2 linked regions of the Homo sapiens genome follow. The protein of the gene in region 1 interacts with the protein of each later gene in a biochemical or structural test. Each region holds a gene or a part of one and is shown in the gene's direction. Other genes may lie near its edges.

What was found.
Region 2: the proteins of NCKAP1L (region 1) and GAS7 form a complex in vitro, tested with the Homo sapiens proteins (one study listed by BioGRID).

What each region holds. Positions count from the first base shown.
Region 1 is NC_000012.12:54,487,269-54,504,487, forward strand, and holds the start of NCKAP1L (nck-associated protein 1-like), read left to right. Parts: upstream 1-10,483; 5' UTR 10,484-10,521; coding exon 10,522-10,623; intron 10,624-11,509; exon of another isoform or gene 11,510-11,567; intron 11,568-12,086; coding exon 12,087-12,197; intron 12,198-13,264; coding exon 13,265-13,357; intron 13,358-17,219. UniProt on the Homo sapiens protein: Essential hematopoietic-specific regulator of the actin cytoskeleton. Controls lymphocyte development, activation, proliferation and homeostasis, erythrocyte membrane stability, as well as phagocytosis and migration by neutrophils and macrophages.
Region 2 is NC_000017.11:9,904,876-9,920,089, reverse strand, and holds the end of GAS7 (growth arrest-specific protein 7), read left to right. Parts: intron 1-384; coding exon 385-464; intron 465-1,990; coding exon 1,991-2,089; intron 2,090-2,748; coding exon 2,749-2,862; 3' UTR 2,863-9,484; downstream 9,485-15,214. Other genes in the region: RCVRN (recoverin), read left to right, coding at 14,910-15,214. UniProt on the Homo sapiens protein: May play a role in promoting maturation and morphological differentiation of cerebellar neurons.

The sequences.
Region 1 (17,219 bases):
AATTTTTTGTATTTTTTAGTAGAGACAGGGTTTCACTGTGTTATCCAGGATGGTCTCGATCTCCTGACCTCGTGATCCACCCGTCTCGGCCTCCCAAAGTGCTGGGATTACAGGCGTGAGCCACCGCGCCCGGCCTCCTTGAGCCTTTTTATTGGGACCACATGACTAGCATTATTTTTTCAGTTAGCCATCATTTTAACTATCTTTGGATTTTTCTTTTTTTTTTTTTTTTATTGATCATTCTTGGGTGTTTCTCACAGAGGGGGATTTGGCAGGGTCATAGGACAATAGTGGAGGGAAGGTCAGCAGATAAACAAGTGAACAAAGGTCTCTGGTTTTCCTAGGCAGAGGACCCTGCGGCCTTCCGCAGTGTTTGTGTCCCTGGGTACTTGAGATTAGGGAGTGGTGATGACTCTTAACGAGCATGCTGCCTTCAAGCATCTGTTTAACAAAGCACATCTTGCACTGCCCTTAATCCATTTAACCCTGAGTGGACACAGCACATGTTTCAGAGAGCACGGTGTTGGGGGTAAGGTCACAGATCAACAGGATGCCAAGGCAGAAGAATTTTTCTTAGTACAGAACAAAATGAAAAGTCTCCCATGTCTACTTCTTTCTATACAGACATGGCAACCATCCGATTTCTCAATCTTTTCCCCACCTTTCCCCCCTTTCTATTCCACAAAACGGCCATTGTCATCCTGGCCCGTTCTCAATGAGCTGTTGGGTACACCTCCCAGATGGGGTGGTGGCCGGGCAGAGGGGCTCCTCACTTGCCAGTAGGGGCGGCCGGGCAGAGGCGCCCCTCACCTCCCGGACGGGGCGGCTGGCCGGGCGGGGGGCTGACCCCCCCCACCTCCCTCTCGGACAGGGCGGCTGGCCGGGCGGGGCGCTGACCCCCCCACCTCCCTCCCGGATGGGGCGGCTGGCCGGGCAGGGGGCTGAGCCCCCCACCTCCCTCCCGGACGGGGCGGCTGGCCGCGCAGACGGGCTCCTCACTTCCCAGTAGGGGCGGCCGGGCAGAGGCGCCCCTCACCTCCCGGACGGGGCGGCTGGCCGGGCCGGGGGCTGACCCCCCCACCTCCCTCCCGGACGGGGCGGCTGGCCTGGCGGGGGTTGACCCCCACCTCCCTCCCGGACGGGTGGCTGCCGGGCGGAGACGCTCCTCACTTCCCAACGGGGTGGCTGCGGGGCGGAGGGACTCCTCACTTCTCAGACGGGGCGGCTGCCGGGCAGAGGGGCCCCTCACTTCTCAGACGGGGCGGTTGCCAGGCAGAAGGTCTCCTCACTTCTCAGATGGGGCGGCCGGGCAGAGACGCTCCTCACCTCCCTGACGGGGTCGCGGCCGGGCAGAGGCGCTCCTCACATCCCAGACGGGGCGGTGGGGCAGAGGCGCTGCCCACATCTCAGACGATGGGCGGCCGGGCAGAGACGCTCCTCACTTCCTAGATGGGATGGCGGCCGGGCAGAGAGGCTCCTCACTTTCCAGACTGGGCAGCCAGGCAGAGGGGCTCCTCACATCCCAGACGATGGGCGGCCAGGCAGAGACGCTCCTCACTTCCCAGACGGGGTGGCGGCCCGGCAGAGGCTGCAATCTCAGCACTTTGGGAGGCCAAGGCAGGCGGCTGGGAGGTGGAGGTTGTAGCTAGCCGAGATCACGCCACTGCACTCCAGCCTGGGCACCATTGAGCACTGAGTGAACGAGACTCGGTCTGCAATCCCGGCACCTCGAGAGGCCGAGGCTGGCGGATCACTCGCGGTTAGGAGCTGGAGACCAGCCCGGCCAACACAGCGAAACCCCGTCTCCACCAAAAAAATACGAAAACCAGTCAGGCGTGGCGGCGCGCGCCCGCAATTGCAGGCACTCGGCAGGCTGAGGCAGGAGAATCAGGCAGGGAGGTTGCAGTGAGCCGAGATGGCAGCAGTACAGTCCAGCTTCTGCTCGGCATCAGAGGGAGACCGTGGAAAGAGAGGGAGAGGGAGACCGTGGGGAGAGGGAGAGGGAGAGGGAGACCGTGGGGAGAGGGAGAGGGAGAGGGAGAGGGAGAGGGAGAGAATCTTTGATTTTTCTAGAAGGAAAAAGTTCTAGGTTTTCCCTGTATTCCATCCTCCACCCCTTTCTGGAAATGCTGAAGACAGATACCATGTTCCAACATTAAGAACTGCCAGGTGCTACATATGGTCAGAAGCTTGTTTATTTTCATTTTTATTTATTTATTTATTTATTTATTTATTTATTTATTTATTTATTTATTTATTTGAGATGGAGTCTCGCTCTGTCACCCAGGCTGGAGAGCAGTGGCGCAATCTCGGCTCACTGCAAGCTCTGCCTCCCGGGTTCACGCCATTCTCCTGCCTCAGCCTCCCCAGCAGCTGGGACTACAGGCGTCCGCCACCACGCCCGGGTAATTTTTTGTATTTTTTTTTTTTTTAGTAGAGACAAGGTTTCACCATGTTAGCCAGGATGGTCTCGATCTCCTGACCTCGTGATCCGCCCACCTCGGCCTCCCAAAGTGCTGGAATTACAGGCATGAGCCACAGCACCTGGCCTATTTTTATTTTTTATTTTTAGAGATGAGGTCTTGCCATGTTGTCCAGGCTGGTCTTAAACTCCTGGTCTCAAGCAATCCTCCCACCTTGGCCTTCCAAGGTGCTTGGATTACAGTGTGACCCACTGCACACAGCCTAATTTTTTTTTTTAAAAACGTTAACTTTTTATTTCTGAGGTTATTTTCTCCCTCTAGTGGCTTACAGTTCTTATCAGGAAAACTTACTCTTCTGCATGACAGGTGGTACTGTAATCTGCTGGCTGGCCTCCTGTGGTTTGGGTCATAAGGACACATTTCTAAGGCTTCTGGCTCCATGAGGACTAAATGGTAGGAACCACAGGTTGTCAAATAAAAAGAATGACATTTAAGATCAGGTAGTCTTGGCATAGACCTATTTTATATTGTCAAAACAAAAGTAATATGAAAGATAGGAGTATCTCAAGTCTTACCTATGAAAGTTTCGAGTAACCAAAGCAATAGCCTAGCCAGTTAGACAGTAGGGGAAATTCACTGCTTCCATGCAAAAAATTAACGTTTGTATATATTTTTAGTCTTATAAGTTGTGTTAGATAGAGTGCTTGTCTCTCAAATAAAGTATTAAACAGGCAAAGGTCCTTGGAAAACTCAGTCTGGAGTAAGATGAATTTTTTTTTTTAAGACAGTTTCACTCTTGTTGGCCAGGCTGGAGTGCAATGGCGTGATCTCGGCTCACCACAACCTCTGCCTCCCGGGTTGAAGCTATTCTCCTACCTCAGCCTCCCGAGTAGCTGGGATTACAGGCATGTGCCAAGCCTGGCTAATTTTAAATTTTTATTAGAGACGGAGTTTCTCCATATTAGTCACGCTGGTCTTGAACTCCCGACCTCAGGTGATCTGCCTGCCTTGGCCTCCCAAAGTGTTGGGATTACAGGCATGAGCCACAGCGCCCAGCCAGTGAAATTTCATACTGTAAGCTTGAGTGCTGGAGAAAGAAAGGCTGGGACAGCTGGTTCCTTTACTATTCAGCATTGGTCCCTCCATCCCTTTTCCAACTTACCTAAATTAAGCTCTTTGCCAGGGAAAGATGCTAATTGTCAGATAGGTCAGCATAGCCACTGTTGGAGAAAAGGAATCTGAAGTATGAACAGTACAATGCTTAAGTTCAGGCTACTTTATAATTATAATAATTATTTTTTAGAGATGGGGCCTTGATGTTGCCGAGGCTGGAGTGCAGTGGCTCTTCACAGGTGTGATCATAGCACATGACAGCCTCAAACTTCTGGGCTCAAGCAATCCTTCTACCTCAGCCTCCTGAGTGGCTGGGACTACAGGTACATGCCAACATGCCAATCTTGGGCTACTTTATAGTTACCTGAGAATGTCAGTCTCAAATTTCTAAAGTTGTAGGTATTAACATATGAAGACTCCTAGAAGTGATTCAAGAATATACCATCTCAGATCTGCTACATTTTACTGCCAATATAAGGCCTACTTTCTTCCATGGCTAGCTGTCTTTAGCTATCCTAGCAGACGTTCATATTAAGGACTCTCAAGTTTCCAGGCAACAGCTACACCGAGATTTCTGCAAAGCATGGACAGTATAGTTTGATGGAGGAAAAATAAGATCAAGGCAGACTGGAATAAGCAGTAGGGATAGAAAAGTGCCTTAGAATAGTCCATTTCAATTCTGCTTTGCATCATGCCTAGGGCATAGATAAAGGGCACAGAGCTAGACTATTAAATGTCAGATTTTCCTGAGGGCATTTTGGTGACTAAATCCAGGGATTTAGACTCAGGTACCTTTCAGGAATACAAGTCAGGGTAGTTGTTTAAAGCTTTCACTGCATATTAATGATTATATTAGAGCCATGAACCCTTATTATAAAGTGAATTGGCTCTCTGGAAAATAAAGGCTGCAGCATAATTCAATGTTGTATACTGTTATCTTTAGATTTTTAAAGATAATGGAAAAAGATCTTCAATAACCCAAATGTAGTCTTCAGACAACCCCAAACCCTCATTTTGGCCAGCAGCCTAGAAAAGTATGAAGTTTGACCAGACTGATAAGCCTGGTCTTAATAAATGAAGACTGCTTTAGAATAGGTGGCGAGAATTGGTGACGCTGGGTTATTCACCTGATTATGGATAGCTGAATGGAGGCTAAGACCATTTCCTTTGATATATGTTAGACATGGCCAAAGCATTCCCAACCTTGATGCCACCTTGACACTTAAACCTAGCCTAAAGGATCTTGAGACCTACCTTATTCTTGAAGGAGTGTCTGTCAAGAATCTGAAGGCAAGTGTGACTTGAAGGCGAAGACGATCCTTTGGTAAGACAAAAATAAGACAAATAGCTGAAGTTTGAGGAGAGGGAAAGCACAGTACCTTTTAGTCTGGTGATGTGAATCAACTTTCCATTCAAGCTACTCAATTCCTCTTTTCCCACCATATGTTCTATGATTTCTCAGAGGTTCGGAAATTTTTGATGTCATAGTTAAGTCTTAGAGAACTGGCTCTCAATCCTGATTGTTCATGAGAATCACTGAGTAGTTTTAAAGTGACAGGTCCTTTGGTCCCACTCCAAAACTACTGGATCAGAATCTTCAAGAATGGGCTCTGGCTAATTGTGGCTTTAAAAGAGTTCCACAGGTCTGGCACAGTGGCTCACACCTATAATTCTAGCACTTTGGGAGGCTGAGGCAGACAGATTGCTTGAGGCCAGAATTTTAAGACCAGCCTGGGTAACATAGTAAGACCCCCATCTCTATAAAAAAATTTAAAAAATTATCCTGGTGTGGTGGCGTGTGCCTGTAGTCCAAGCTACATGGGAGGCTGAGGCAGGAGGATCACTTGAGCCCAGGAGTTCAAAGCTGCAGTGAGCTATCATGACACACAGTTGTACTCCATCCTGAGCATCAGAGCAAGACCCTGTCTCTATTAAAAAAAAAAAAAAAGAAAGACTTCTACAGGGGATTCTAGGTCTACCAGGCCATACTTTGGGAGTAATTAAATACCTTTAGAAGGGTTCCTCCAGTTTATGGGAGAAACTGCTGAATGATCTTTCCAATAAGTTTCTCTAAAAACTACCAGTTGGCATAGTTAGTTACATTAATTTTTTTGAGATGGAGTTTTGCTCTTGTTGCCCAAGCTGGGGTGCAATGGCATGATTTCGGCTCACTGCAACCTCTGCCTCCCGGGTTCAAGCGATTCTCCTGCCTCAGCCTCCCGAGTAGCTGGGATTACAGGCGTGCACCACCAAGCCTGGCTATTTTTTTGTATTTTTAGTAGAAATGGGGTTTCTCCATGTTAGCCAGCTGGTCTTGAACTCCTGACCTCAGGTAATCCGCCCACCTTGGCCTCCCAAAGTGCTGGGATTATAGGCGTGAGCCACCGTGCCTGGCAAAATTTTTTTTTTTTTTTGAGACGGAGTCTTGCCCTTGTCACCCAGCCTGGAGTGGCAATGGCTTGATCTCGGCTCACTGCAACCTCCATCTCCTGGGTTCAAGTGATTCTCCTGCCTCAGCCTCCTGAGTAGCTGGGATTACAGGTGCCCGACACCACGCCCGGCTAATTTTGTATTTTTAGTAGAGATGGGGTTTCTCCATTTTGGCCAGGCTGGTCTCAAACTCCTGACCTCAGGTGATCTGCCTGCCTTGGCCTCCCAAAGTGCTGGGATTACAGGTGTGAGCCACCACACTCAGCCCAGAAAATTTTTTTTGAGACAGGGTTTTGCTTTGTCTCTCAGGCTGGAGTGCAATGGTGCAATCACAGCTCACTGTAGCCTCAACCTTCTGGGCTCAAACAATCCTCCTGCCACAGCCTCCTGAATAGCTGGGACTACAGGTGTGTGCCACCACTCCCGGCTAATTTTTGTATTTTTTGTAGGGATGGAGATTCACCATGTTTCCCAGGTTGGTCTTGAACTCCTGGGCTCAAGCCATCTGCCTGCCTCAGCCTCCCAAAGTGCTGGGGTTATAGATGTGAGCCACTGCGTCTGGCCTAGTTCCATTTTTAAACCTAGAGTTTTTCTTTATGAGTGTCAAATAGAATCCACAGAAAGTGACATAACAAGCTCACTACACACTCAAAGATCAAAATTTTACTTTACTGTTGACATTCCTAATCCAATGTAGCAGGTCTTGAACCAAATGTTTACATATGCCATATTATTTCATCAGTTCCACAGTCGTATGAGGGATTACCACCATTTTATAGATTAGGAAACAACTCAATGGTGATAGATAGCTAAAGTTACAAAGCTAGTAAGTGTTTAGCATTATTAATATTAATTGAGGTAATACATGTAAGCTTGAGTGCTTATAGTACTTCAAATGCTTTACATGTACAGAGTAAGTAACTAGGCTATAACTTTTAAAATATGCACAATAGCTCCGTGAAATAGGAAGTATTATCAATATCATCTTTATTTTACAGACAGGATAAATAGGATGTGAACTCAAGATATCTGGTTCCAGAACCTGGGCTCTCGGTCACTAAATCATAAGGCTCAGCCCACTGTACTCAACTACACTTGAGCCAAATTCTGTCTGATAACAGCAGGTAGGCTTTTCGCATATACCAAGTACAGGGGAATAAGTGTTTCCAGGTTTCAACAATCTTTTGGTTCAGCTGGCTAGGCAGTATTATATGAAATGGGCAGTTAAGGACAGAACCTGATTTAGATGTAAAGTATGTGGTATAGACCAAGTGTTGTGGGAGTTCGGCAAAACCTAGACTTGGGACTATTGAGCTAGATCCTGAAGATTGACTAGGATTTGGGTAAGCAAGAAGGAAAGCATGCGTAAGTGAAGTCAGAGAGGCAGACATGAACATAGCACATTCACAGCAGGCTGAGAAGATGGTCCCCACCAAGTTGGGGAGTATCCATTAAGGAGCAGGAAACAAGATTAGCTTGGGATGCAGAGTCTTCAACCACACTTTCAGGATAAAGACAAGAAATTCAAGTGAGGTGGCTCACAAAAAATACAAAAATTAGCCAGACGTGGTGGCCTGCACCTGAAGTCCCAGCTACTCAGGAGGCTGAAGTGAGAGGATCTCTTGAGCCTGGGAGGTCAAGGTTGCAGTGAGCCATGATAGCACTACTGCACTCAAGCCTGGGCAACAGAGCGAGAGCTTGTCTCAGGAAAAAAAAAAAAAAAAAAAAAAGGAATGCAAGAAAGAGCCGCTAGAATTACACTAACCCCACGAAGACCGGTGCTATGCTGCTGCTAAGCTTCCTGGATGTTGGCCTCTTACTGTCTGCTCCATATTCTCCTTGGTAAAGGTAAAAGACCAGTAGAAATCCTACAAATTGCTTTAGTAAAACCTGGGTTTCTTTGATAACAGCAGGTAATTCAAATCTTCATGACCAATATCACATTACCTCGAGCCCATAGCTTTCTAGGGACCCAGTCTAGTAAATAAAATGGAAGGCAGATTCTATATTCCTAAAATGCAAATTCTACCTTAGAGATATTTGAAATTTCATGCGTTAAGTGTTGCCATCTTGCTGCTTCTTTTAAAAATACATTCTCTTTGGAGCATGGATGTTAAGTTTCTTTTTAAAATTAAAAAACATTTAGATTCAGGGGATACACATGCAGGTTTGTTACATGGGTATATTGTGTGATGCTGAGATTTGGGCTTCTAATGAACCCATCACCCATGCCCAAATAGTGAACACAGTACTCAAGTTTTTTTTTCTTTCTTGCCTTTATTTATTTATTTATTTATTTATTTATTTATTTAGAGACATAGTCTTGCTCTATCGACCAGGCTGGAGTGCGGTGTTGAACTCCTGGGCTCAAGCGACCATCCCACCTCAGCCTCCTGAGGAGCTGGGCCTACAGCCATGTACCACCACACCAGGCTAATTTATTTTATTTTATCTGTAGAGGGGTGGGGGAAGGTCTCACAATGTTGCCTAGGCTGGTCTTGAACTCCTGGCTTCAAGCAATCCTTCTACCTTTGCCTCCCAAAGTGCTGGGATTATAAGCATGAGCCACTTCACCTGGCCCCAACTTCTTAAGTAATAATGCTGATCAGCCTTGTCTCTCTTCTCCCACTCCCTAGAATTTATTGGGACAATGGGAACTCTGGATACGGAAAATGGGAATGATTAAAAACCTGAGAAAAGGAATTGGCAAGGTGGTGGAAATGAAGAGAACTCTTTTTGATTTATAATTTTTCCTAGGACCTTTTGCTTTGTGTCTTGAAAGAAAGTTGAAATAGAGTTGAAAATTTTCTTGAGTTACGGAGTTAAGGCCTCATTGGAATGGCAAGAATATTTTAATGCTAAAATTCATTCAAGTCTCTAAGATTTAAGGGTGATTACTAATTTCCTCTTTTTAATCTTGATTAATTTGGTTCTTCTTCATGGGGCCTATTTCCTAATTTAGTCTTAATAATTCAACAAATAAACCAGCATATTTATTGAGTGACTACTGTGTCCAAGAGGTATTGTTCTAGATCAGTGTTTTTCAGAATGGAATATTTGTACCAAAACCTCCTACAACAGTGCTTATATAAGTACAGACTTCTAGGCCCCACAACAGACTCGCCTACCTACCAATGCTAATCTCAGAGGACAGGGATTGATCTGTTTCTCAAGCATCCATAAATACCATGGTACTAGAGCACTGGTTCTCAAACTTGAGTGTGCATTGGAATCACCTGGAGGGTTTGTTAAAACACAGAGTGCCTGGACCCACCCCAGAATTTTGGATTCAGTGGTCTGGGGCGGGTCCTAAGAATTTGCATCTCTAACAAGTTTCCAGGTGATGCTGATGCTGCTGGATCACATTTTGAGAATTACTATGTACTTCTTGAGAACTACTTTGAGAATTATTATGTACTGTAGAAGTACAATGCACTGTAGTAGAGCATTGTGAGAAATATAAAAAAGTATTAGAGGCCGGGTGTGGTGGCTCATGCCTGTAATTCCAGTACTTTGGGAGGCTGTGGCGGGTAAATCACCTGAGGTCAGGAGTTCGAGAGCAGCCTGGCCAACACGGTGAAACCCCATGTCTACTAAAAATACAAAAATTAGCAAGGCGTGGTGGTGGGCACCTGTAACCACAGCTACTCCAGAGGCTGAGGCTGGAGAATTGCTTGAGCCCAGGAGGTGGAGGTTGTAGTGAGCAGAGATCATGCCATTGCACTCCAGCCTGGGCAACAAGAGTGGAACTCTGTTTCAAAAAAAAAAAAAAAAAGAAAAAAAAGTATTAGGTACAATTCCTGTCATTAAGGAGCTTATGCTGTAGTTGGGGGAGATACAACGTACACTATAAACATATAACAAGGAATATATGTATTTGACAATATAAAATATAATACAATATAATATTTGACATTGATGGGGTCTTTAGGAGAAGATGGGATTTGATCTGGGTACTAAAACATGATGAGGCCAAAGGTTCATAGGCATTCTTGGATATAAAAGAAGGAAAATATAGAGGTGTACAGGGGTGGGGTGGTAGATACTTGTTTATCTAGCTTACAGCTTTTAATTTTTATTTTTTATAGAGATGGGGTCTTGCTATGTTGCCCAGGCTGGTCTGGAACTCCTGAGCTCAATGGATCTTCCCACCTTTTCCTCCCAAAGTGCTGGGATTACAGGTGTGAGCCACCACGCCCAGCTTTGTCTAGGACACTTATGGGGGCATAAGACCAAAAAGGTTGGTGCAGTCTGTGAAGAGCCTTGAAAGCCTGTCCTTCTCCTCAGCTCCACCCACTTCATAGCCTTACCAAAAGTGCTGCACAGCCAGAAAGAGGAAGTCTCCCCTGCTGAGTGTGCAAGAGGAAGCACAAGAAGGCTCTGAGGGCCTGTGAGCCATAATGACTGATTTCACCCATGAGCCAATTGCAGAGGCAACAGAAGACCAGTGCACCAACCAGGCTGGGTCCCTCCGCCAGAGGGTGTCACCATCTAAGCTGAAAGTGTTTGGGGAGATCAGACATTGCTGTCTGGTGCTCCTCTCTCAGTGGCCATCATGTCTTTGACATCTGCTTACCAGCATAAATTAGCAGAGAAGCTCACTATCCTGAATGATCGCGGTCAGGGGGTTCTCATCCGTATGTATAACATCAAGAAGGTAAGCATGAACAATGGGACTAGTACTGATTATTCCAACAATAATAGGGCAGGGAACCCTGAGGCGGCAGGTGCAGCAGTTAGACTCCCACCTTTTTTTCCACTGCTTTTCCACTGACTATAATCTACATAATCACTCAGATTATACAGGCCAGCCAGTTCAGGAAGGCAGAAGTGGAGGCTTCTTTTCAAGGCTTCCCCTTTCTAGATATGATTCTTGCCCCAACGATGGCATCTGCTTTCCTCTGGGGATGGGGGTGAGGGTGGGGATGGGGAAACAACAGTGGTATTCCAAGTGACTTGGATAAAGGTCTGGGGTCCAACCTTCTGGGTTTTATTATTTATTGTTGATCCTCTACACTCTGAAGAGATCTGAAGCTGGGTCTCTGGCAAAAACTTTTCTGTGGAAGTGCTTCCCTAAAAGGAAAAAAAATAGATAATTAGGTATTTAGATTAAAAAGGGTAGGTGTCTTCTGAGCTGCTCCTGGGGTAGTTCATGCTGTGGTGGTTGTGTGTGTGTGTGTGTGTGTGTGTGTGTGTGTGTTTAGAATAGGAACTGAGGAATTGAAAGAAGCTAGTGACAAGAGGTGGGCTAGGGGCTGGGCAAACCATAGGAAGTAAAGAGATAAAGACAGGGGTGTTTATGGGGAGTTCCTGGCATAGAAAATAGGGGACTTTGGGGGAGGGAGCTTTTGTGTTTTTTGTAATAAAACAAATCACCAGGAACACGGTTTCTCTGTCACCATGAATCCTGTAAATGCCCTTTGGGATAAGATACTTACATAGTGAACAAAATTGTGACACTGAATCTTGTACAAAGTCTAACTCCTGAGCAGCTGCTTTTCTTGTTCCTTCCGGCTTCAGTTGAGGGGCGGGGAAACAGCTTCCTCTTTGTGCTGGGGCCAAGCAGGCATTAAACTCTACCCATCAAGACAAAATGCCTAGGTTGTTATTTCGCTCTTAGATACTTGGCTTAATGTCTTGGAATTTTTTCTTGACCTACTCTTATGCTTTTTATTTTTATATTTATTTATTTATTTATTTATTTATTTATTTTCGGAGTCTCGCTCTGTCGCCCAGGCTGGAGTGCAGTGGCACGATCTTGGCTCACTGCAACCTCCGCCTCCCGGGTTCAAGCGATTCTCCTGCCTCAGCCTCCCAAGTACCTGGGACTACAGTTGTGCACCACCATGCCCAGCTAATTTTTGTATTTTTAGTAGAGACGGGGTTTCACCATGTTGGCCAGGCTGGTCTCGAACTTCTGACCTTGTGATCTGCCTGCCTCGGCCTCCCGAAGTGCTGGGATTACAGGTGTGAGCCGCTGCGCCCAGCCTCTCATGCTTTTTAAATTAGTTCCCAGGTTGCCTTTTCCTAAGACAGATTATGAGAATGAATGTTGCAAGAAGAGGTATGTTTCTGAGGAGGAGGAGAAAGGGTTGAAATATATATGGTTTCTCTCTGCAGACTTGTTCAGACCCCAAATCTAAGCCACCTTTCTTACTGGAAAAGTCCATGGAACCATCTCTCAAGTATATCAACAAGAAATTTCCCAACATAGATGTCCGAAACAGCACGGTGAGAACTTGGTCCTTCTCTCCTTTCTCTGAATAATTCTCTGCTTGAATGGCTGAAATTCTCCTCTTTTGATGCCTCTCTTCAAACTTGGCAGGGGATGGAGTAGTCTTTTTTTATTAATAGTTTTCCAAGGCTCAACCACAGGGCTTCAGGTTGTTGTAGAGCTTTAAGTCTTGAGCATTTTGAGATAAGATGGGATTCTTCCAGCATAAGCTGGAGCGAATCATCACCCCTTTTCCATTGCAAGATTCATGGGAAAACATTGTTTTTGTACAAGACAGCTCTATCAACCCAGCAGGGTACATGTATTTTATTGTTTCTGTTTCCCACTCACTGTTTCCTTGCTGTTTGTCTTAGATTTCTGCATCTAATGGGATATCTCTACTTTTCCCTTATTAAATGTTAACCCTAGATTTTTCACCCATCTTTGTAGCATCTTTGAATTCTGTTTCTTTTGACTTTGATATAAATAGTATATCTGTTCATCTGAAAGGGTGCTTAAAATTTCCTCTCATTTAGCCCTCTGTATCTAGTCAGGATCACATGCAACCATTCTACCTAGATAGACAATCTCCTTTGTTTAAAGACCTTCAGAGCACTGAAGCGTTTCTAACTTCCTCTGTCAGTATATTTCAACTCTCTTTCTTTTTCTTTTCTTTTCTTTTTTTTTTTTTTTGAGATGGAGTCTTGCTCTGTCACCCAGGCTGGAGTGCAGTAGCACAATCTTGGCTCACTGCAACCTCTGCTTCCCAGGTTCAAGTGATTCTTCTGACTCAGCCTCTCGAGTAGCTGGCATTACAGGCGCCCGCCACCACGCCCAGCTAATTTTTGTATTTTTAATAGAGACGGGGTTTCACCAGGTTGGCCAGGCTGGTCTTGAACCCCTGACCTCAGGTGATCCGCCTGCCTCGGCCTCCCAAAGTGCTGGGATTACAGGTGTGAGCCACTGCGCCCGGCCTCAACCCTCTTTAAGAATGTTTTAGGTATAACCACTGTTCTTCTTGAGTTATTTGGATCAATTGTCTTATTTTGCACTTTTTTATTGTTTTGTTTTGTGTTTCTCTCAGCAACATTTAGGACCAGTACATCGTGAAAAAGCCGAGATAATTAGATTCCTCACCAACTACTACCAGTCATTTGTGGATGTCATGGAATTTCGGGTGAGCTCTCTTGAGCCGTTTCCAATGTAGGCAAGGTCTTTCAGAGGCTATTCTTTCTTTAGATGTTCATGTATTTGCTTAAAACAAGTTCTTGAAAAAATGAGAGAGATGTACTAATATGGAAGGATATCTAAGTTGTATTGTTAAATGAAAGCAAATTTCAAAATAGTATATGATACATCACATTTCTATTTTAAAAGAGTATGTATGTATATGTATTTAGTAAATATCTAGGAAAGATCTGGACTATTTTACATTAAACTGTTAAAAATAACTACCTTTGGGGACTGATTATGACTGGCTTCAATTTAGTAGGCTATGCATGTTTTTTCTATTTTAAAAATTATGGTAAAATACACATAACATAAAATTTACTGTCTTAACCATTTTTAAGTATACAGTTCAGTGGTACTAAGTATATTAATAATGCAACCATCTTTTCACCTTGTAAACCTGAAACTCTCTACCCTTTATGCAATAATTCCCCATTTCCCTTTCTTTCCAGCCCCTTGCCATCACAATTCTACTTTGTTTTTGTGATTTTGACTATTCTAAGTACCTTATATAAGTAGAATCATAAAGCATTTGTCTTTTTGTGGCTGGCTTATTTCATCAGCCTAATGTCCTTAAGGTTCATCCCTGTTGTAGCATATTGTAGAATTTCCTTTTTAAGCTAAATAATATTCCATTGTATGATTATACTACATTTTGCTTATCCGATCGTATGTTGATGGACACTTAGGTTGCTTCCAAGTTTTAGCTATTGTAAATGATGCTGCTATGAACGTGGGTGTACAAATATATCTTCAAAACCCTACTTTCAATTCTTTTGATTATAAACATGAAAGTGGAAATGCTGGATCATATGATAATTCTATTATTAACTTTTTTTTTTTTGAGTTAGGGTCTCACTCTGTTGCCCAGGCTGGAGTGTAGTGGTGCAATCACAGCTCACTGCTGCCTCGACCTCCTAGGCTCAGGTGATCCTCCCACCTCAGCCTCTTGAATAGCTGGGGCTAAAGGCACATGCCACCACACCTGGCTAAGTTTTTATATTTTTTGTAGAGATGGGGTATCCCCATGTTGGCCAGGGTGGTCTCAAACTCCTGGGCTCAAGCTATCCACCCACCTCGGCCTCCCAAAGGCTGGACTGTGCCGGCCTATTTTTAACTTTTTGAGGAACTGCTATACTGTTTTCCACAGTGGCTGTACTCTTTTACATTCTCACCAACGGTGCATAAGGGCTATAATTCCTCCACATCCTCGCCAACAATTGTTATTTCGTTTTTTTGACAGTAGCCATCCCAGTGGGTGTGAGGTATTATCTCATCTAAGTTTTTATTTGAATTTTTGCTAATGATTAGTGATAATGAGCATTTTTCATAGGCTTATTGGCCATTTATATATCTTCTTTGAAGAAATGTCTGTTTCATTCTTTGACCATTTTTGAATTGGATTTTTTGTGTGTGTTGAGACTTAGGAGTTCTCTATACAGGTTGAGTATTCCTTATGGAAAATTCTTGAGACCAGAGTGTTTTGAATTTCATATGTTTGCAGATTTCAGAATATTTGCATTAGGCAGTTGAGCATCCCTAATATGAAAGTCTGAAATTTGAAATGTTTCAATGAGCATTTCCTTTGAGTGTCTTGTTGGTGCTCAACAGGTTTCAGATTTTGGAGCATTTTGGATTTTCGGGTTAGGGAAGCTCAACCTGTATAAACTATATATCTTTGCATTATTTGAGCTTTAAAAATTTCAAGTATTTTTCCACAATATTTTATACAAACCTACTGTAAAATTTCTAGTATAGTACAATGAATATTGTTATACTCTTCTCCTGGATCTCCTAATTGTTAGTATTTTGCCACATTTTCTTATCCTTCTCTATTTTTTAATGAACTATTTGAGTTAGCCTCATACATCATGACATTTCCTTTCCCAAATACTTAAGCATACATTTGCTAAGAGCAAGAATATTTTCTTACCCAACCCTAATATAATTATCATACTCAGGAAATCATACACAGGAAATATAACATACACAGGAAATATATCATACACAGGAAATATAACATTATGGCTGGGTGCTGTGGCTCACGCCTGTAATCCCAACACTTTGGGAGGCTGACGGGGATGAATCGCTTGAGCCCAGGAGTTTGAGACCAGCCTGGGCAACATGGTGAAACCCCATCTACACAAAAAAAAAAAAAAAAAAAAAAAAATTAGCTGGGCATGGTAGTGAGTGCCTGTAGTCCCAGCTGCTTAGGAGGCTGAGGCAGGAGGATCACTTGAACCTGGGAAGTCAAGGCTGTAGTTAGCCATGATTATGCCACTGGCCACTGTACTCCAGCCTGGGTGACACAGTGAGACTTTGTCTCAAAAAAAAAAAAAAAGAAACAAAACCCCACCCAAACTAATATACAGCCCATATTCACATTTCTCCAGTTGTCTCAAGGATAATACATTGGATTTAGTTATGTCTCCTTCATCTTTAATCTAGAATGATTTCCAGCCTTTGTCTTGTATGACACTGACATTTTTGAAGAGTCTGGGCTAGTTATTTTTGAGAAATCCTTCAATTTGAAATTGTCTTATTGTTGATAGTTTTTGGGAGCAATACTACATGGATGATATTTTATTTGAATTTTAAATAATGAGCATGTATTATTTTTATAAACATAAAAAATAAAAATTAATATGATGTTTTTGAAAGAAAAATTGATAAGGTATTATTAAAATTTTAAAAATTAATGTCGTAATTTTACATTTAGAAATTTGTCATAAGGAAACAGAATTGTTTCATGGGGAAATAAAAAAAGGAAACAAATGCAAAGACATATGTATAAGAATATACTCCATTGCATTATTTATGATAGTTACAATGTGATAATTGATATATCCAATAAATAAAGGTTTGGTTAAAAGTTCAGAGTATGTGCCCACAAATGAATATTCTGTAGCTGTTAAAGTATACACACATATATATATATACACACACATATATATTTTTTCTTTTCTTTTTTTTTTTTTTGAGGCGGAGTCTTACTGTGTTGCCCAGGCTGGAATACAGTGGCGTGATCTCGGCTCACTGCTGCCTCCGCCTTTGGGTTAAAGCGAGTCTCCTGCCTCAGCCTCCTGAGTAGCTGGGATTACAGGCACGTGCCACCACGCCTCGTTAATTTTTGTATTTTTAGTAGAGATGGGGGATCTCACCATGTTGGCCAAGCTGGCCTCGAACTCCTGACCTCAAATGATCCACCTGCCTCGGCCTCCCAAAGTGCTGGGATTACAGGCATGAGTCACTGCACCCAGCCAATAATATATTTTTTATATTAATTGGTATAGAAAATGTTCATCATATGTTGTTTAATGTAAAAGCAAATTGCAGTAAGACAGTTTAAGACAGATGTAAGATGTAAGATGTCCCTAAAATGTATATTTACATAGGTAAATATGCATATAAAGAAGATTGGAATTTCTGATCGGTGGGATTATAGTTTAAAAAAGCTAGTTAAAATTAAACTTGTCGGTATTTTCTAGTTTTTTCTACAATAAACATGTATTATTTATGTATTCAAGAAATAATGCAAATTTTAGCCCTCTGAGCAACCCAAGCTTGTGGTGGTGTTATAGTATTTTTTCAGATGATACAAGAATAATGTGTTCTGTGCCTACCCTAGGAAGCAAATCCAGGATATTCAGTAGATCACATAGTGAAGAGAGAAGTGAGGACAAGAAGGACTGTAATGTATGAACGAGGGTCAGGTCAGAGAGTATTCATTGTGGAATTGAGAGTAGTGGTTAGCAAGAGGGTAGGTGCTGGTGGAGGCAGTGGGAAGAATGCTGGAAGCACATAAAAAA
Region 2 (15,214 bases), on another chromosome or scaffold:
AAAACTGCCATCTTTAGAGAGGGAAGCATTTCTTGGGCTCATGATAGGATTGGGGGTCCTAGGAATACCCTAGACACACACACACACACACACACACACACACACACACACACACACACAAAATGAGAACCACCATCCTGAATCCTTGGTATCTGGGGTCAGGCTTCAGGGGGACACCTGAGCTGGGTTCTCATGGGGCTGGGTTGCCCCCTTCCTTCCCTGGCTCTGCTTTCTTCTTCTTCCTACTGCCATCCCTTTTCCAGCTTTCCAGCGGCCACCATGACCCCAGGGGGAGGAGAAGGCTTGGCTGTGGGGCTCAGGGTGGGGCACAGAGTCATGGTGAGGATAGGATGCTTCATGATGGTGACTGTGGTCTTTTTCCAGGAGACGACCTCATGCGCTGTGTGGATCTCTACAACCAGGCCCAGTCCAAATGGTTTGAAGAGATGGTGACCACCACATTGGTAAGCGGGCAGGGATGTGTGGACATGGCAGTACAGAGGCTGACACAGAGCAGCCCCTGGTGGTTGTTGGTGGGCGCGGGGATGATGGGGTGGAGTGACCCTGGAGATGGTCATCAAATCTACTTCAGTGTTGGGGTCGAAACCTCAATGTGAGCCAGCTTATGTGGATTCAGATCTCTGCTCCAGCGCTTCCTAGCTGTGTGGATGTGGGCAGGGTTGGGTTGGATATGGCTACATCCTTCTTGGGCTGTCCCCTGAGAGGTCAGGGTCAACTGAGGACTCTCCTCAACTAAGTGGACAAGGGCCTCTTTAGGAAAAATAGCCAAGCTATAGGAAGAGAGGACCGCCCCACACATGCACACACACGAGTTGCAGGTCCTTGGTAGGAGATCCTTGCAAAGTGGATGGATGGGTGAGGATGGAGCTAGGCAGTGGGGTGGGGGAGGCCTCTCACCAAGGGTGAACAACAGGCGGCAGGGCCGATGATGCTCTTGAGTATTTCTTGTAAAGGGGCAGCATCTCCTTATCAGTCAGCACCTGCCTGAGTGGACAGTGAAGTGTGGCTGGTACTTGGGCCAGATGGGACAGGAGGCATCATGCCAGGTGCTCATCGGATCAGCCCACTGCCTAAAGCCACCCCTGTCCATCCAGCACAGGACTAACCAGCTGCCTTCCCCAGGTGTCAGCCCACCAGAGCAGATTAGAGGCCTCCACCAGGGACAGTGACCTAGTTTTCCTCCTGGTTAATCTCCTAATTAAGCCCCCTGCTTTACCCCCCTTTCTGATTAATCACCTGGGCAGTGACCTAGTTGTATGCAGAGTAACAGCCGGATCCCCTAGATTCCAAAGACACAAAACCATCTAGAAACCAGAGGACAAACCCTTTCCACGCTCCCCTTTGACAAAAGCTGTGCCACGTGCAGCCCAGTCTGCCTCCCTGGCCCGGTCTCTATTGCGGCCACAGCACTAGGCATAGGCAGAGGAAGGGAGGCTGCTCAGCAGAGGCCCAGGGACAAGGTCCCAGGAATGTGTGGCATGGAGCTCCCACATGTGCCCCCTTGTTATACCCCATCAGGGCACCAGGGCCAGGGCTGCATGGGTGCATTGCCATGAGTAACAGCCTGATGGACTCTGGTTTAAATCCTGTTCCTCCCATAATTCCGTGTCGCTTTGGGTGAGCTGTGTTGTTGCCTCTCTAGGTGTTAGTTCCCCAGTTCCCTTGCTTGGAGAATGGGGATAATAACAGAAACGATCTCTTAAAATTGTAACGAGGACAGTTAAGGAACGCACGTAAAGCCCTCAGCACTGTGCGTGGCGGAGCAGGATTTCAGGAAGTAAAACAGCCGCTGCTGCTGTCATCAGCTTCACCTTCACCTTAGATATGGGGCACGCTCTTCATCAGACCCCAGAGAGTCAGATGGGACAGAATGTCCACAGCCAGTGACTTGCGTTTTGTGGTCTTGGTGGGGGGACCCCCAAGTGGAGGGGACGTGCTCAGAGTTCTCTGGCCTTTGCTTTCTCGGCAGGAGCTAGAGCGGCTGGAGGTGGAGAGGGTAGAGATGATCCGGCAGCACCTGTGCCAGTACACGCAGCTGCGGCATGAAACAGACATGTTCAACCAAAGCGTGAGTTTCCAGCCCAGCGGGGCTCCCGGGCGACACGGGGCCTGGGGAGAGCCGCCTGGCGCTAGGCCGTGGCAGGTTAAGTGGCTGCTGCAAGTGAATCTGCCCTAAAGGCGGGCAGTGGGCAGGTGCTCTGGCCTGGGGGTGGCCTCGTGGACTGGGCCTCTCAGGATTGTCCTGGACGTCTGTGTGATTCCGACCCTGGCACATGAAGTGGACACACACGTGAGCTGTTACCCTGAGGAGAAAGAAGCTCGTAACAGTTACAGTAGCTGAAGACATTATTAAATTTCTTAAAAAACAAAACCAAAAAAAACAACTTCTAGAAATATTCACAATACCTAAAGCTCAAGTTTTATTTGTCCTGTTCACTGGTGGTAAATGTGGGGTGGAAGGGATAGAGACAGGTTTTAAGGCCCTCCTGGCCTCTCATCCAGGCCTGGGGTCTGCAGGGTGAGAAGCAGGGTCGGGATGCATACTGGGTTCCCCGTTCACAGCCCTCTTCATGTGCTGTCCCTCAGATGGGCCTCCCCCTGGGGCCCCGGAGCCCTCTAGAGAGGCTGCTCTCAGAGACACTAAGGTGAGGACAGCATGTCTCAGAGGAGACCTCCCTGGCTTGGCCGCCGTCTCTAACAGTGTCGCATTTTCTCTGTCTCTTGCAGACAGTCGAGCCCGTGGATCAGCTGCTTCGAAAAGTGGACCCGGCCAAAGACAGGGAGCTGTGGGTCAGAGAGCACAAGACGGGCAACATCCGCCCTGTGGACATGGAGATCTAGATGGGCCTGTGCAGCTTCGGGGGGTCCTGCTGGGGAGGGGGGCTGGGCTCCCACCATGGGGCCCATGCCGAGTGGATGCCCCCCACCCTCTCTCCTGGGCCACTGAGGAGAGGGGAGAGAGCTGGTGATTCCAGAAGGGTGACCCGGACAGCCTAGCTGGGGGCTCCCCCATATTCCCAGGCCCAGAAGACAGACCCACAGCCCTGCCCTTGTCTCTGAGGCTGAAGACCCCCTGACTCCCATGCTGTGCTTGCCGCTCTGAAACAAACAGAGGCTGGAACTTTGTGGTCCTTGCCGAGTTTTGTAGGGGTCACTGTCACATGCTTGTGCCCTGGAAGCCCCAAGGCTCTTCCTCCAGCTGGCTCCCTTGTCTCCAGGGCTTTGGAGGATCAGGGTAGGGAGGGCTCTGTCTCTAAGCCAGGTGTCAGGATCAGAATCATGGGTAGAAGGTGCCATTCAGCTCACAGCCGCACCCAGAATCCTTTGCAGCCCTCCTTCTTTATTTTTTTCCCATTGCATTCTGGGAGTCCACATCTGGCTTTCTCAGCCACTGTTCATCACCAGGGGTTTTAGGAGGAAGGCTTGGCTCCTGTCTTCCCAGACCCACCATGCCTGGAGAGGTCAGGATGGAACTACCTCATTCGGCAAATTAGCCCCAAATTGAGCGCTGAATCGTGTCCCATGAGATCAGGCGCCATCTGTAAAGTCTCCTCTGGAAATGCCAATCCATCCTTCCCCCAGCTGCTTCCTCGGGGAGGCCCCTGCCCCCACCCTGCCAGCCCTTCCCAGTCTCATTAGAGGAAGCTTTCCAAAGTTCTCAGTTATCAAGACCTCATCCAGCTCGTCCAAAGGCTTCAGGGATGGAAACAAACCAGCTCGTCTCAGAGGCCAGCAAGCTGGGGCCTGTCCGCCACGGTGCCCTGTGCACCTTTGGGCTGCCCTGGCCCCCACTCTCCCGGGCCGCCCACCACAGGCTCTTAATGGGGCCGGGTCAGTCCTACATGTGAGATGGGTTAGGGCAAGTCTTTGCCATCCCCCAGATGGCTCTGTCTTCTTGTGTATGGCAGGGCTGGGACTGCTGTCCCTTGTACAGTTTTCTGTCACTGGTGGGCACTGGACAGGCATAGCAGACTCTCTTGTGGCCACACTAGGTTGTCGCCTTTCAGGCAGTGTCCCGCCACCTTTGCTTCCCGCTCCTTCTGGACATTCCAGAGCCCTGCACCAAACCCTTACTTGGTGTCTGCACCTCCTTTCCCTCTCTCCATCTTCCAATCCCTGGAAAAGTCTGGTCTGAGTGTGACTTGGGAAGCTTTCAGTGCTGCTGTTTGGCCCAGCTCATTACTTTCTCCCTTTCTCTACCACAGCAAACACATTCTCCACCATGTCAGTCTAAAGAGTCTAAAGGGGCCGGGAGAAGCATGAGCGAGGGGCAGATTCTAGTCGGGAGCCCATGCCCTGGAAATCCATCTTTCTTCATCTTTCCCATTGACCACTTTGGGTTTGACCTGCACATCTGCAGTGAGGGCAGAATTCAACAAGCACAACTCACTGGTCTTTCAGTCAACGTGCTAGAAACCGATGACTTATTAATCTCTAATTTTTTGGCGCCTCTTTCATTGAATGAGAATTGCTTTCGTATAGTTCACATTAGAAAAATGCCTAATATACTAAAGTAAACCAAACGTTGTCACTTTTCTCTTGTTCTTGAAACATTGCAACCAAAAAGGTCAGCACAAAGGCCTTCACCTACGTGAAGACCTCCTGGTAGGATCTGTCCATGGGATGGAGAACCACTCTGTCCAGATCTGGGGTTGGGTCATGACACCAGCTACCAATTTTAGAATATTATTTCTTGGTTTCTTTATGAAAAATGGGTGCTAGTGGTAATTGCTTTGTGGCTTAGTAAACTACTCTGTGGATGATTTCCAAACATTCAAAGCCAATAGCCTTGTTATTAACAAGATATTTTGAGTACAATATGGCTCATTGACTTTTCCATTACATCTGAGGATTCCAGAGTCCTCTGTTCATCCCTGGGATAGAGTGAGCCCTCTTGCGTCTTCCAGGGTAGCTCAGGTTGGCCCAGTTTGGGCCAGTCCATTTTTGGAGGTCACTCTTTCCCCCCTCATCCCCTCACCTCCTTCTCTTTACCCCCTTCACGTACTTCCTTTCTTTCTTCCCTCTGTTATTCATTCATCAAGCAGGTTAAAGCCATTGTGCTAAGATCTAATCTGAGGACACTATAATGGCCCTGTCGTCAGGGAAGCCCGTGATCGCTCGTTTTCAGGGGTCTTACCGGTCAGCAACCTTGGCATTGATACATAGGCACTCTACAGAATTTAAGTTTTCAGAGGTAAGTCTGTTGTTCTGATTAATCTGCATTCATTCAGCGAATGCTCAAGACAAGCCAGGCATGCTGAGAAGCGGCGCTCTAGTTGTATGTAAGATGGGCATTCCTCTGCTCTCCTCTATTCTCCATGTCGACTGAGAAGAGTATAATAAGAACATTGTACCCTCTCCACACTTAACCCTCTGGGATTCTTTATTATAATATAAACCACCGTCGTGAGGCATTTACCTGTTGGATGGAAGGTAGACAGCAACAAGATTTTAATCACCTGGTCACCAGACCCTCACGGCCCATATCCAATTCGAATTTCAGAAATTTCTCTGTTTGCTTTAAATAACTCTTTACAAATAAGGGTCGGGCACGGTGGCTCACGCCTGTAATCCCAGCTCTTTGGGAGGCCGAGGTGGGCAGATCACGAGGTCAGGAGATCGAGACCATCCTGGCTAACATGGTGAAACCCCGTCTCTGCTAAAAATACAAAAAATTAGCCAGATGTGGTGGTGCACACCTGTAGTCCCAACTATTCGGCAGGCTGAGGCAGTAGAATCGCTTGAACCTGGGAGGCGGAGATTGCAGTGAACCAAGATCGGGCCACTGCACTCCAGCTTGGGTGACAGAGCAAGACTCCATCTCAAAAAAATTATAAATAACTCTTTGCAAATAGGAAAGTGAAGCTCAAGGGTAACCAGTGAGGCTATGAAATTGCCAGTGAATTAAGACCAGGGCTAGAGTCAACAGTCCAGAACCCCTATCCGTATGAACAGGGGCCCGTTTCTGGTTGAAATCAAGGTTAGGATGCAACTGAGAAAATAAAAGACTGCACTTTGGAGAGGCAAGCACGCTATCCGGGTTGTTGTTTTGTTTTATGTCTTGGTGCTTAGGTGAGGACTTAGCTGGGTTTATTCAAAGTGGGCGGGTCTGGGCTATTCTTGAGAATGTCCCTTCCATTTCTGAGAACAAGTCAGCCCCTTCTACCTGCCTCCACCCAGGAGACTGATGCACAAGATCTGTTTGTGAAAGCCTGATTTAAAAAGAAAAAAAAAATTCCTTAAGCCAAATGGTGTTCCAAGTTGGTTGCTGTGACAACCTCCAGGAAGAGCCACTTGTTACCCTCTATTCTTTCTAGTGCTTTCAGTCAGTGGCAACACATAGGCCCCTTGGACCGTGGGGATGGCGGCCCTGAGATTCTGTCAGTGGGACCACCCTGGGCCTCCTTTCTACCTCCACTCAGCACCCTGTTGGCCAAGGAGAATTTCTGCGGTGGGAGGCAGTGCTCTGCTAGTCAGGATTGATAAACAGCTGGGCACACCGAAACAGTGTACCAACGAATTCACCAACCAGGGGTTTCTTTCCCTACCCTTTGTGAAAACCAATCAATTACTAGATGAGTGGATGGATGCAGAAAAATCTGGGCTGAGCCAAAGTCCCTTTTGGAAATACAAGCCATAACATTCGAAGGACATCAGCGACCTTGGCTTGTTTAGGTGATTTTACTTCCAGCTGCAGGTAGTCTTGACAAGGAGTGTTTAAACAGAAGGCTCAAGATGCATTCCTTGTGTAGGTCGGAGAGAGCACTTCTAATGTTAAGTGGGGTACAGATCAGCTGCCCCCCCACGTAGCCTGGACATCGTCTTATCCCCATAATCCTTGCCATCCCTACAAGGCCCATCGCCACCACCTTTTCCCAGGTTTATTGAGGTATGATTGACATCCAGTAAAATTCACCCTTTGGAAATATACAGCTCTGTGAATTTTGACAAATTTAGTGTCTTGTGACCATCACCAAGATCAACCTGTTTTTAACCCTCCAAAAAATTCCCTTCTCCTGCCCTCTTTCCCTGGCAACCCTGATTGATTATCTGATCCTATAATTTTGCCTTTTCTAGAATGTCATATAAATGGAGTCACACTGATGTCGCCTTTTGAGTCTGGCATCTTTCCCTCAGCTTAATGCTTTTGAGTCATTCATGATGTGTGCGTGTGGTTTGTTCCTTCTCCTTGCCGGGAAGTATTTCATTGCATGGGCGTACTACTCTGCTTCTTTATTTTTACACTGAGCCTTTCGCCCTGGAAGTTCTTGGCCCAGGGTCTTCAACTTGTTTGCACGACCACTTCCAGCTTGCTGCTTCCTTCAGTTCCCCAGGCTCCTCCTCCAAATGCCAGCTGTGCCCACAAGCTGTTCTTAGGGCTCACACTCGCCTTTTGGCGCGTGGTGGGTTTTTGGTAGTGCAGAAAGAATCCAGGGATGGGAGGGGAAGGGACGGATGGGTGCTCAATTGCTGCTCACGTCTGCTGCAACCTGAAGCTTGCATCTCAGCCAGCAGATCTGCTCCCTTCTGGGACCCAGGCTTCAGTGTCACACGGTCCTTGGCTATGTATTGGGCGTTGGAGGCTTTGAAAGGCGAGCAGAAGCAGCATGGACAAGAAGGCTGGGGCTGGCCCTGGGGCTCATCATGATGCTTTCCTGGATCTGTTGCTTCATCTGCAAGCTGAGGGTGTTTGTTCTAGATGAGTGTCTCAGGCCACCGGCAACTGCATGTACCTCCTCCCTTTCTCATTTCCAATGATGTACCCTGTACACGTGTTCATGCTGTGTCTGGCTCTCATCTGCACAATCGTGCATAGAATTGCCTCAAGTCCTGGTGAGAGAGATGCCGTGGTACTTTTCCATTTAGATTCAAATGGAGCTAAAATTAAGAGTTTTATGAGCTGTTAAGAATGAGGTAGTTTCTCCTAGGACCCCCCAAAGACAGTGCAAGTAATGACCGTTTGGATCTCATTCGTCGATCTTTGATAGTATGTTCTGGAGTCTACTCCCCAGGAGCCAGGACAGGCGTGAAGATGGAGTCCTTGTCGCAGCTGGAGCCTTGCCTAGCTGGTGATCACACAGCCTGGCCTGTACCTGCACCCCACTGGATGGTGGTACATGGTGGCAGGGACAGGACCACACCCAGTTAAGGCCAGACCAGGCTGAGTGTGACCCCTGAGGTAAACACTCCACTAAGCTGTGTCTTGTTCATGCCCCCTGCTCAGTGAAAGGTGAGTCCCGAGACCAGTTGGGTACCTCTCTATGCGAACCAGAGACATTTCTGGATCCAGGCCAGGTGAAGATTAGGGCCAGGAAGCCTGAGCCCCCGGGGCCTCAAGGTAGGGAGCCGAAGAGGCTGCCAGGACTCTGCTGGGTTGAAATTTGCCGGGGAGGACTCTTGTCTCCCCCTCAGGAGTATTTTTGTTGAGGCTTTCCTGGAGGTGAAGAAGCAATTCCCATTGCAGCAGGTTAGAGCGAGAATCAGACAGAGGGCAAAAACCAATTCGCTTCTCCCCACGTTCTAAATGCTGGGGCATGGCTGTCAGGAGGGCTTCCTGGGAGGTGTCTCTGGGGGTGGGGTGAGGTTGGGGCGATGGCCTTTGGAGATTGCGTGTGGTGTTCAGGACTGTTCCTTGGTGTTTGAGGGAAACTTTAGTGGGATTGCAGTGGAATGTAAGGTCAGGGCACGTGGGTGCTCTCTCGGGGTGGGGTGACTGGGAGACCTAGAGGGAAAGCCTGCTATGCAGGGGGAGAGCACAGGACTGGCCCTGCTCTGCGGCCTCCTTTGTCCCATAACCTGAAGTTAAGTCACATCCCCTGTCGGGACCTCCGTGCACTCATCTGTCAAGTGGGGGCGCTTCCCTTCCAGCATCACCTGCAGCAGACGGGCTCTCGGGAGTCGTGGGTTCCAGGCAGCTGTGTGGACCCAGGGACAGACATTCAAAGGGACGCCAGCCATCCTTAGTGACAGGGGCCCCAACTTAGCATCCCTTCCCTTCCGTTAGGAAGGAGATGACCGGAAGCAACCCCTTCACAGACACGAGCACATCGGCAAACCCTATGAAAGTGGAATTTTCTAACAAAATAAACTTGCTTGTTTGATCTGTTTTCTGTAACTTTTGCTAAATACTTTATACATTTTTCATGTTAAAGAGCCGTGTCTCCCGCCAGCACTCCTCACCCCGGTATGAATGTGTTTCCTCCACATTGTATATCCTTCCACCCTCTGGCTGCCTAGATCAGTAAATAAAATTGATGTAATATAATTTATAAGTAACACTGTTGAAACCCTGATCCCAGTGGAGGCTGTAACCCACCTGCCCCCGCACCACCCCCCTGACCCCTGTTACCGCATTTGTGTGTATTAATGCTGAAGAATTAAATGTTTAAAGAGTTTAAATTTTGAAGGCGTTTGCTATATACAGTTGTCCTGCATTATTATAAAGAGTTTTCAGGAAGTTAAATCCCATCTCGTTTTTTTTTTCTTCTGCTCTGTGTGTATCCTCGAGATGCCTAGATTCATCCCATGTAAAATAAACTGTCCAGAGACACTAGGTCCCCCTAGGCGACCCTCTTTCCTGGAGGGCTGCCACATTCTTCATGTGACCTGTCTTGGCATCCCTCCTAGGCTCTCGAGATTGGTGGTGATTTCACCTCCGATGACTTAGCGGGAGACAAAGGGCATCTGGACACTGGCACCCAAATGGATGCTATGCTCCTGGCCTCAGGCCCCTCCCCCTGGTGACTTCCTGTCTCTGTGGGTTCCAGCCCTTTGCCTCCCTCTCATCTCTGGAGCTCCTGGCTGTTTCTTTTCTCATCCATCCATCCATCCGTTCATTTATATATATATATATAGAGAGAGAGAGAGAGAGAGTCTCGCTCTGTCGCCCAGGCTGGAGTGCAGTGGCACAGTCTCAGCTCACTGCAACGTCTACCTCCCAGGTTCAAGCGATTCTCCTGTGTCAGCCTCCCGAGTAGCTGGGACTACAGGCACGCCCCACCTCAACTGGCTAATTTTTGTATTTTTAGTAGAGACAGGGTTTTGCCACGTTGGCCAGGCTGGTCTCGAACTTCTGACCTTAGGTGATCCGTCCTCTTCGGCCTCCCAAAGTGTTGGGATTACAGGCATGAGTCACTACGCCCGGTCCCATCCATCTATTCATTCAATAATTACTGAGCATCTGGTATATGCCAGACACTGCTCTAGGTTCTGGGAACACATCAGTGTGAGAAACAGAGCCCTGCTCTCAGGTAGCTTACATTCTAGCAGACAAAAACAGTAGACCTACTATGTTCTGTGATGTGGGTGTGGATGGTGTTAAGTGTTGTGGAAAAGAAAACCAGGACAGGGTACGTTGCAGGATTCAATAGGGTCATTTGAGTGGCCTCATTGAGAAGGTGGTATTTGATCAAAGACAAGGAGACCTGGGAGGGACCCTGGAAGGTCACCAGAGGAGAGTGTTCCAAGCGGAAGAGATGCTCGCGTGTCTGAGGCCAGCCTGGCTGGAGTGGAGGGAGTGAGGAGGGAAGAGAAGATGAGGACGCTGGGCAACCCTCTTTCCTGGAGGGCTGTCACATTCTTTGAACGACCCGTCTCAGCGTTTCCCCCAGGTTCTTGGGATTGGTGGTGATTTTACCTCTGATGACTTAGCAGAGAGACAAAAGGCATCCGCCCCCTTTCATCCGTTCTTGGAGGTGCCAGAGGCCACTTGCGAGAAATGGTGGGATGAGGGCCAGTGCTGCCTGCTGCAGGCTTTTGGCTTGGACTGGGAGAAGTGGGCAGCCATAGTGCATGACCTGATTTCATGGCCATGGGGCTCACTGCGGGGCTGTAAGGGGACAAGAGCAGAAGCAGGAAGAGCTGTTAGGAGGCAGCGGTGATGCTGCCTGCACAAGGCAGGTGCAAGGGAGGCGGGAAGAACGGTCTGGTTCTGGATGTACCTTGAAGGTAGAGTCAAGATGATTTCTTGATAGATTGGAGTGGGTTGTGACCGAAAGAGAAACACTGAGAATGATGCCAAGGACCTCAATCCAAGTCATCAAAAGGATGGATTGTCATTTTCTGCAATGGGGACAGCTGTGGGAGGAGGGTCCTTCCCCATTCTCTGTCTCCCCCGCCACCTTCTCCATACCCCCTTTTCCCTCTCAATGCGGACTTCTCTGCAGGTGCTGGCTCCAGGCCAGAGGGCAGGAGGGTCGTCTTGGCCTTCAGCTCATAGCAGGCAAGGTCGAGCAATGGGGAAGGGGTGGCGTCTGGGTCCCAGCTAATGGCCAAGATGGAGCTCCTGCTTGAGGGGACAGGGCCAGCTTCTGGGAAGCATCTTTCAGTCCAGCGAGGAGAGCGAGACCAAAACTGGGATCCTCTGCCTGGAGATGAAGCCTTCTCCTCTAGAGCAGTCTTTGGGTTTTGGGAGAGTTTATGGCCCCAGCTCAGACTTAACAAATCGACTCACAATACATCATCTCCAACAACTTGTTTGGCTAAGGAGCATAAGCTCTCCCTCTGATAGAAGATGTTTATGCAGGTTTTCAAACAAACCTCCAGGTCATGACCCCTCACTCTCAGCATCAACACAGCTGCCTGCGGTCCCCTGGGGCCCCTCCTGGGCACAGCAACCTGGAGAATGTGGACTGTACCAGGCTGCTTCCGACCTGGGTCCAGCTCCTTCCTCCTTGTGCCTGGAGAGGACAGCAAAGACTGGAGGGCTCTGGCTGCCTTCTGCCTCGCCCAGGGCCTCTTTCATTGACATGGTAACCCCACCTCCTCACCTACTTGTCCTCTAGGCTCAGGCCTCCTGTGACGTAGACAAAGGAAGCCTAAATGGACAGGCTGGCAGACCTGGACTTTCCTTCCTTCTGGCATTGCCATTTAGCAACCATGTGACCCCAGGCTGGTGACATGCCTTTAGGAGGCCCCACTTCTCACTTGTAACACTGGCTTCGCCTCATCTGCTGCAGGCTTGATGTGGACAGGGGTGCGATCCAGGAGGCACTTCCAGTCGCCCCCTACTAGTGGCTCAGAGCAAGGGGCCGAGGCCTCTGACCTCACTCTCCCTCCATCCCCAGGGCTGCAAGGAAGCTCTGGAATGAATGCGATTCCAGGGTGTGGCTTGGGCTCCCGTTTGTTTTCAAGGCTAGTGACTGTCCTGTTTCTAACTGCTCTTGAGAATAAATGCACGCTACAGGATGGTGAAAGCCTAGGAGAGGAAGGACTCCTATTCAGAAGTAATATTCTCACTGGGCGCAGTGGCTCATGCCTGTAATCCCAGCACTTGGGGAGGCCAAAGCAGGCAGATCATGAGGTCAGGGGATCGAGACCGGCCTGACCAACAAGGTGAAATCCCATCTCTGCTAAAAACACAAAAATTAGCTGGGCATGGTGGTGAGCGCCTGTAATCCCAGCTACTTGGGAGGCTGAGGCAGGAAAATCGCTTGAACCTGGGAGGCAGAGGTTGCAGTGAGCCGAGATCGTGCCATTGCACTCCAGCCTGGGCGCAGAATGAGGCTCTGTCTTAAAAAAAAAAAAACAAAAAAAACAAACAAACAAAAAAAAAAAAACTCACAAAGTGATGGAAAAAAATTAGAAAGTTCACACACACACCCCAATATGCAGGTTTCCTGAGAAATCTCTGAAACTGTACTGGGCAGAGCGGCTGGGAGGGATGAGTCTGCCCCTTGGTGCCTGAACCTCTCGGTCCTTCCAGAGTGACATGAGGTGGGCCTGGCAGGTGGCTTTCTCCCAGCAGCAGGGACCTACCTTCTGCTGCCACTAGCCTGTTAGTAAGTAGGCTAAAATCCCCACTTTACACTTTGAGATGCAAGGCGGGCGGATCACCTGAGGTCAGGAGTTTACGAGACCAGCCTGACCAATATGGTGAAACCTCGACTCTACTAAAAATACCAAAAAAAAATTAGCTGGGCGTGGTGGCAGACACCTGTAGTCCCAGCTTCTCAGGGGACTGAGACAGGAGAATTGCTTGAAACCAGGAGGCGGAGGTTGCAGTGAGCCAAGATCGTGCCCAGCCTAAGTGACAGAGGGAGACTCCGTCTAAAAAAAAACCAGTTTACCTGCCTGGAGACCGTGGGGTTTATTCTTCATCATTCTCACCCCAGGGCAAAAAGAGACAACTCTCCATCCACGGTGGCAAGGCTGGGGTTCTGAGTGTGTCCCCTCGAGCACTGCGCTCCGCTAAGGAAAGTGCACGCCCACCCTCCCTTCCTTCTGGGTGACAAGAATCCAGGTGTGCAGCGTCCTCACTAGGTTGCTTCCTCGTGCTTGATACTCCCCGCTGAGCTGCACAGACGCGAAGCCTGCCTTTGCACAGCTCCGTCTCTGACCACTCAGTTATTTATCCATTCACTCAGCAAACACGTTTTCTTGCCTGCTCACTCCAAGTCCACTGCAGACGGACACCCTGCAGCCTGCCATGGACCCACAGATAGATTGTGTTTGGCCCACACCATGTTTTGTTTTGTTTTTGTTTTTGTTTTTGTTTTGTTTTTTTGAGATGGAGTCTCACACTTGTCACCCAGGCTGGAGTGCAATGGTGCAATCTCGGCTCACTGCAACCTCTGCCTCCCGGGTTCAAGCGATTCTCCAGCCTCAGCCTCCCAAGTAGCTGGGATTACAGTCACCTGCCACCATGCCCGGCTAATTTTTTGTATTTTTAGTAGAGACAGGGTTTCACCATGTTGGCCAGGCTGGTCTCGAACTCCTAACCTTGTAATCTCCCCACTCAGTCTCCCAAAGTGCTGGGATTACAGACGTGAGCCACCATTAAAATTTTGAATTAATTGCCAAAGTTGAAAAGTGTGGAAATTGCAAGAAAAATTCTGATTTTTGGATTTCTCTTGAATAATTTAAAAAAACCCAAAAATCTCACCATCCCATGTGACCACGTTCTCTGGCAGCCCCTTCCCGAGGTGACACAGGCCTGGCTGCCCCCTGCTGGTCCCTTCAGGCAGTTCACCTTCACTCCCTGTGACTGATGGACAATAACAAAACGAGTGTTTAGCATTAGCCATGTGCCAGTTTCTAAGTGTGTCAGACATATTGACTCACATCAGCCTCACAATGACAGTGTGGTAGATGCTATGATGCCCATTTATTCAAGAAAGACTTGCTGGGGGCCCAAGCCTATCAGGTTCTGGCAATGGAAATGCATCCGGGAACAACACAGACAAAATCCCATCCTTCACGGAGCTTTCATTCCGGTGAGGGGACATGCAGCGTGCCGATGATGGTGGGGGTTGTGCTATTATAGATAGAGGGTCAGTATAGGCCTGGCTGAGCAGGTGACATTTAAGCAGAGACATGACTGCAGTGAAGGTTTAGAAGAGTGTCCCAGGTGGAAAGAGGTGAAGAAACAAGCCTGGGGCCACACAGCTAGTTAAGTAGCCAAGCTGGGACTTGAACCCATGCTGGCCCCAGAGTCTGTGCTCCTAACCATTGCATTCTAGGGCTTGATATGAGATGCCAGCCCCGCCCCGAGATGCTCAGAGTTAGTGAGGAAGAGAAACAGGGAACATGGCTGCTGTTAGAGGGCTGGGGCTGGGGGTGCCGGAGGCCCCAGCTCTGAGGGTTCCAACCTCCTGTCCTGTTCTAGTATCGTCCCGGGAGGCCGAGATGAATTGCCTGCCTGCCCTGGGCTCTTTATTTTAATCTCACTAGGGTTCTGGGAGCACCCCCCCCCACCGCTCCCGCCCTCCACAAAGCTCCTGGGCCCCTCCTCCCTTCAAGGATTGCGAAGAACTGGTCGCAAATCCTCCTAAGCCACCAGCATCTCGGTCTTCAGCTCACACCAGCCTTGAGCCCAGCCTGCGGCCAGGGGACCACGCACGTCCCACCCACCCAGCGACTCCCCAGCCGCTGCCCACTCTTCCTCACTCATGGGGAACAGCAAAAGTGGGGCCCTGTCCAAGGAGATCCTGGAGGAGCTGCAGCTGAACACCAAGTTCTCGGAGGAGGAGCTGTGCTCCTGGTACCAGTCCTTCCTGAAGGACTGTCCCACCGGCCGCATCACCCAGCAGCAGTTCCAGAGCATCTACGCCAAGTTCTTCCCCGACACCGACCCCAAGGCCTACGCCCAGCATGTGTTCCGCAGCTTCGATTCCAACCTCGACGGCACCCTGGACTTCAAGGAGTACGTCATCGCCCTGCACATGACCACCGCGGGCAAGACCAACCAGAAGCT